Regions from separate parts of the Homo sapiens genome. Here region 1 is linked to region 2. Evidence: fine-mapped expression QTL. A gene starts in region 2. The other region holds a variant in brackets. All regions are shown on one strand. Distances are between the middles of the regions.

Evidence for each region. PIP is the estimated chance that this variant, and not a neighbour inherited with it, causes the effect.
Region 1: its variant is the best candidate, but not a certain one, in a credible set for the expression of N4BP1 in whole blood (TOPMed, PIP 0.69).

Annotation. Positions count from the first base shown.
Region 1 is chr16:48,541,956-48,544,859 of GRCh38, reverse strand. It overlaps N4BP1 (NEDD4 binding protein 1), which reads left to right. Exons shown (of 7, transcript NM_153029.4): 7 at 1,599-2,904. The coding sequence ends at 1,956. Among named protein-coding and RNA genes, the nearest start is that of N4BP1, 67 kb to the left of the region's middle. RefSeq lists enhancers at 2,238-2,738, 2,739-2,904. The variant G/A (reference allele first, on the strand shown) is at 1,706.
Region 2 is chr16:48,608,523-48,611,426 of GRCh38, reverse strand. N4BP1 (NEDD4 binding protein 1) reads left to right here and starts at 1,247. Exons shown (of 7, transcript NM_153029.4): 1 at 1,247-1,652. The coding sequence starts at 1,455. LOC124903687 (a long non-coding RNA gene) reads right to left here and starts at 1,117. Exons shown (of 2, transcript XR_007065063.1): 1 at 909-1,117; 2 at 214-772. RefSeq lists enhancers at 977-1,056, 1,067-1,116, 2,067-2,116 and a silencer at 1,157-1,756.

The DNA of each region.
Region 1 (2,904 bases), 67 kb after region 2:
ATTTTGTATGTGTGAGTGTCTTTTTACATTCACTTTCTAAAGTCATTTGCTTTGAACATGTTATGCTTATATTAATTTCCTTACTGCTTAGGAATCACTGCCTGGGGGAACTGACCATTACTTTCTACCTTCACTGAATGGAAAAGCCAGTATTCAATATTTATCTGAAAATGATTTGGTAGTTTAGGTTTTCTTTGTTGTAGTTGGGGTTTGTTTTGTTTTTAGGACACCTTGTTAGTGGTTGTTTCTGTTTTCATAATTCTTAGGTAACAGACATTAACTAAAGATTCCTGTGAACCTAACAGGGAGATCATATGACCCCATGACTGATGTTTACTCTTTTTAAAAACTAAACCAGGCTGCACTTCTGTGCATTCCCAGCTGGTATTTGCATGGGGGTGTGATGGGGGGTCTAAGCTGAGAGGAAGACACACAGCTCTCTCAGCATTTTTAGGCAGTCACACTTTCCAGCTGATCTTTTCCATTTGCAACAGGAACCACTGGGAGCTGTAGGTTTGGATTCAGTGGTAGGTGGTGATGGGTTTCTTTTTTTACATGGTGGTCTCTTCTACCTAGGAGACCACTACAATTTCAACTCCCTGGTCTTGTGAATCATTTCTCTTTTGAGCCTTTGGGTTTTATGACACAGACGAGGACTTAATTCCCAAATGCCATGCTTTTCTACCCACATGAAGAGAATGGCAGCCATTTTCCACACCTGCTGTGCTCATCAGTCCATCTCATTTTGCTTCCCCACATCTGAACTTGGAAATCCCCTGCTGGGCTTCAGGCCCGAGGCCTGTGTCAGAGCATCAATCAGGTCCGCGGGTCAGAGTTACCAGAAGGAGAGTCCTCTGCTTGCTCCTGCTCCTTGAGCAACCTGGCACGGGGTCTGTCCTGCCTGCCTTTTCACTCTCACTTGGTGGCTCTTTGTGGAGCGGCTCAGAAATCGGTTAAGAAGTTGGGAATCACTTCCATCACAGAGGGGCTGTTGAAGTTAGTTGAGCTTTTGAAGTTGGGGAAACTTCAGCTAGCCTCATTTCTCGCCTGCAGGCCGAGTCCAGTGGGAGGCTTTTGAGCGATACAGATGCCCTCCCTGTACACACATACTCGCACATACCCATGTGCATACAAGTGTGGGCACCCACCCACACCTCATCTAGACTGAGTCGGTGGGGACTGCCACTCTCCCCAAAAGGAGTCTCTTCTAATTTCTATTAATCAGGGTCCTGCACAAAATCAAAATCTTCAGAAGAGTAAGACACTGTTAAACCTTTTGAAAGCTCCCAAGGGTACCCTGGTTAGAGCCAAACAGCTGGATGGGGTCAGTCCTCACAGCAGAAGACCTGGGAGGGTGGTGCTCCCTCATAGAGCGCATTGATTCCCTGGCACGCCTTGAGGTGATGTCAGTGAAATCCCCGCAGGCTCCTCTGTGGGTGTCTCATGGCACCATCTCCACCTCAGTCTTGCATCCTGCCTTTGGAAGCCAGGGAGCGGCATCCTGAGCCTCAAGGCCTGCCGCAGGTACCTTCTAAAATAGCTCTATGATTTTTTGTTTACTTATAACCCAACTCACCAGGACTCACTTCCATTCACAGAGATATGCAGCCCCTACTCAGTGCCCTGCCAAATGTGGGCATGTTTGACCCCAGCTTCAGAGTCCCTGGCACCCAGGCAGCCAGCACCAGCCACCAGCCTCCGACCC[G/A]GATTCAGGGAGCCCCTTCAAGCCACTGGCTCCCTCAGCAGCCCCACTTCCCACTGCTGCCAGCCCTCCCCAGTCTCCAGCAGAACCTGCCCATGCCAGCTCAGAGATCTTCTGCAGAAACCAACGAGCTGAGGGAAGCCCTTCTGAAGATCTTCCCTGACTCAGAGCAAAGACTGAAAATAGACCAGATCTTGGTGGCCCACCCATACATGAAAGATCTAAATGCGCTTTCTGCCATGGTGTTGGATTGAAGATTGTGCTGAGCGCTGAGCTTGCGCTCAGGGCTGGCTGATCAAACTCAAGCTCACACCTGTACCTGATGGGAATGAACATAATGTGAAGAAACTTATTTCCCAGTGTAAACGCAGTTGTACAGAAAAAAAATGTTTTGGGTATAAATCTGGGTTTTCAAAACCAGCTTTTTTCTATATATAAATTATGCTGCTATTACAGATTTAACATTTTCTGTTAAAGGAAAGTCTACATTTTCTGCCTGTTCAGAACTGTTTAATAGCAGTTACTCTTGAGTGTATTTACCTTTTTATGTTTTTTAAACTATTTTCCTTAAAGCCGAAAATATTGACAAATGGATATGGTTAGCCTTTATAAATAAATAAAAAAAAAAGTGTTGCTTTCTTAAGGAAAGCAAGACGTCTTAAAGTATATTTTCTTGAGATGAGTATGTCCCATCACTACCATGAAGTGTGCTCACCCTTCCAGCCTCCTCTGCCCTCACCCCCGGAGTTAAAGTGGGTAAGAGTTGGTTTGTTCTGCAGTCTTTGGTTGGAGTGTTGTGAAAGTGGACCCGCGGTGCCACTAGATGGCACTTGGTGCCTAGCCATGGTGAATGACCAGGGCGAAGTTAGTCTCACAGAATACCAGGGCTAGAAGACATCGTGGAGCCCATGGAGTCCCACCCTCCTTCCCCCTTCCACCCTGCGCAAAAGGGGACGGCCCAGTGTGCACGCCGTCCGGCCATGCCCACAGCCACAGCCACAGCTGAGGAGTGGCCGGGCAGGCAGCAGGCTCCCCAGCCAGGGCTTGACACGCCCACAGTCAGGGGCCTCCACATGCCTGGCCTGGCTCTGGAAGTCACGTCTTAGCTTCTGAACACCGTAGCGGGTTATGAGGAAGTTTAATGAAGAGCCCGGTCACTGTGGCCATCTTGTGTCCCCAACTGCAGGAGACGCCCTGATGTG
Region 2 (2,904 bases):
TATCTACATTTTATAGATGAAAAATTAAAACAGAGAGAGGTAATATTCCCAGAGCCCCTATCTACTATAGCCACAATATTTAGCTGAAGGAAAGGAATCCAACACTTTATCTTCCACAATCTGTTTTCATGGACTCAGAGAATATAAAGGCCTGGAAAAGGCCTTAGAGATAACTGAGTGTACTCTTTTATTTTACAGATCAGAAAACAGACCTGGAGAGGGGTTAGGGTTTATTTGCTCCAGTCCCAGGGAAGATCATGAGTGAGCCCCCAAACTCCCACTTTTCGGGCTTCTCCCATAACATATCCCCTTTCTTCCCTCACAGAAGAAATCACTCTCCTGAATTTATCTTTTTTTTTTTTTTTGAGACGGAGTTTCGCTCTTCTTGCCCAGGCTGGAGTGCAATGGCGCAATCTCGGCTCACCGCACGCAACCTCTGCCTCCAGGGTTCAAGCGATTCTCCTGCCTCAGCCTCCCTAGTAGCTGGGATTACAGGCATGTGCCACCACGCCGCGCTAATTTTTTTTTTTTTTTTTTTTTTTTTTTTTTTTTTTTTTTTTTTTTTTAGCAGAGACGGGGGTTTCTCCATTTTGGTCAGGCTGGTCTCGAACTCCGGACCTCGAGTGATCCACCCGCCTCTGCCCCCACAGACTGCTGGGATTACAGGCGTGAGCCACCGCGCCCGGCCTTCTTGAATTTATCTTAATCATTTTTTTGATTTTCAATTCTCCGTAAGTATGCCCATTTTCTTCTCTTCTTGCTACCATTTTTACTGAAAGAAATAAAAAGGGAAAGAGAAAAAAGTGAGAAGGGCAGCTAAGAAGGTAAAAGGGTAGGGAGGAAGGGAAGAAACAGAGAAAGAAAAGTCCCGTCTGCCTGTGGATTAACGTGAAACTGAATAACTCAACTGCTAGAATCCTGGTTTGAGCGTCAAGATGTCTGAGGTCAAGTCCAATCCCTGTGACACTCTCAGTCTCGCCTCCTGGCAATTAAGTTTCCCCAACTATAAACCCATATATCTACATCCACCAGATCCCGCGAAAGCGGTTTCCCCTCATCAAAGAAGTCCGCCCAGGCCTCCAAAACCATCCCTTTATTCTCAACCAACATGGCGACTGAGGGTGACGTCAACTTCCGTCGCCTTCACCCTACTCCCTTCCCCTAGGGGGCGGCGAGCCTCAATGACGGCTGCGGCCGGGGCGCATGCGCGGCGGCGGGGCCCGGCCCGCGGCGGCGGCAAAGGGGCGGAGGGGTTCGCTGCCAGCAATTGCCAAGCTGCTGCGGTCGTGGCGGGATGGTATAGCCGGGCCTGAGGGCGGGCGGCGGGGCGCGGGCGGGGGCGAGGCGGCCGGGAAGGGCCGACGCCGCCTGACTGGCTTGGGAGCAGCGGCAGCAAGCTGAGGGGGCGTCGCCGCCGCCGGCCCCCGGCGCCGCCGCGGGAGGCCGCGCCCGCCATGGCGGCCCGGGCGGTGCTGGACGAGTTCACTGCGCCAGCTGAGAAGGCGGAGCTGCTGGAGCAGAGCCGCGGCCGTATCGAGGGCCTGTTTGGCGTGAGCCTAGCCGTGCTCGGCGCGCTAGGGGCTGAGGAGCCGCTGCCCGCGCGCATCTGGCTGCAGCTCTGCGGGGCGCAGGAGGCGGTGCACAGCGCCAAGGTGAGTCCGGCCGCCGCCCCCGCGCGCCCGCGGCCTCGATCGGTCCGGGTCTCCGGGCTCCCGCTCCTCCCCGCCCCCGCCGTCCGCCGCGATGCGCCTGGGTTGGGAACGCAGTCTCGGGAGCCAGCGAACGTGCCTTTTCGGCTCGCGAGCCATGTGACCTTGGATAGCGGCTTGATCCCCGGAGCCTCAGTTTCCCCATTTGTAAAGTGGCGCTGACGAAAGTACCTACCTCAGAGGGCTGTCGCGAGGATGAAAGTGGGGGATGTGTATGAAGCGCAGGCACAGCGTGTGGCACGGATCGGGTGCGCTGCGCATGTCGCCTGTTGTTGTCAGTTCCCCGGCCCCCAGGATGGTACGCAAGGCCTGTTGCTGGGCCCGCAGCCTCGTCCACCACCTAAGCCTTTATCCCCCAGTCCCGGGCCTCCACTACTGCAGTTCTGAGCCTTTTTGGGATCTCAGTTCCTCTTGAGAATCGGAAAAAAACTATTAATAGTAATAAAACGCTCGGAGAATGTCAGAAAGAAAGGATTTATGTTTACCTATTTTTTTCTATTTGAGACAGGGTCTCACTCTGTCACCCACAGTGGAGTGCAGTGTGGCGCGGTCTCAGTTCACTGCAGCCTCGACTTCCCGGGCTCAAGTGATCCTCCCACCTCAGCCTCCCGAGTAGCTAGTACTATAGGAGCGCGCCACCACGCCCGGCTCATTTTTTTTTTTTTTTTTGGTAGGGGATTTCACTATGTTGCCCGGGCAGGTCTCGAACTCTTGGACTCAAGTCATCCTCCCATCTCGGTCACCCAAAGTGCTGGGACTACACGCGGGAGCCACCCCGGCCGGATATTTAATATGTTAACAAAAAATAGCGTTATTCTTTGTATTGATATTACCTACAACTAACATTTACATAACGCTTAAGAACATCACAGGTTGCTTCAGAAGGAATGTGCAGCCCTTATGGCTTCTAATAAGGTAGATTTTATCCTCCCCACCACCACCCCGCCTTTTTTTTTTTTTTTAATTAACAGCTGGGGAAACTGAAACTCAAAGTGGTGACTCACCTTCTGCCTAAATCAGCATTTCAGACCTCTTCAGCACCTCTATCTACTTCCCCCCCTTTCCAAACCAAAAAGCAACACAGTATGTTGCTCCTCCTAGGTAACCAAGTTTCTCTAGGTTTTTCCATCTCCTAAGTAGGGCAGCAGGATTCAGACCTAGGGAGTTTGTTTCCAGAGCCTTCGTTCTTGATACT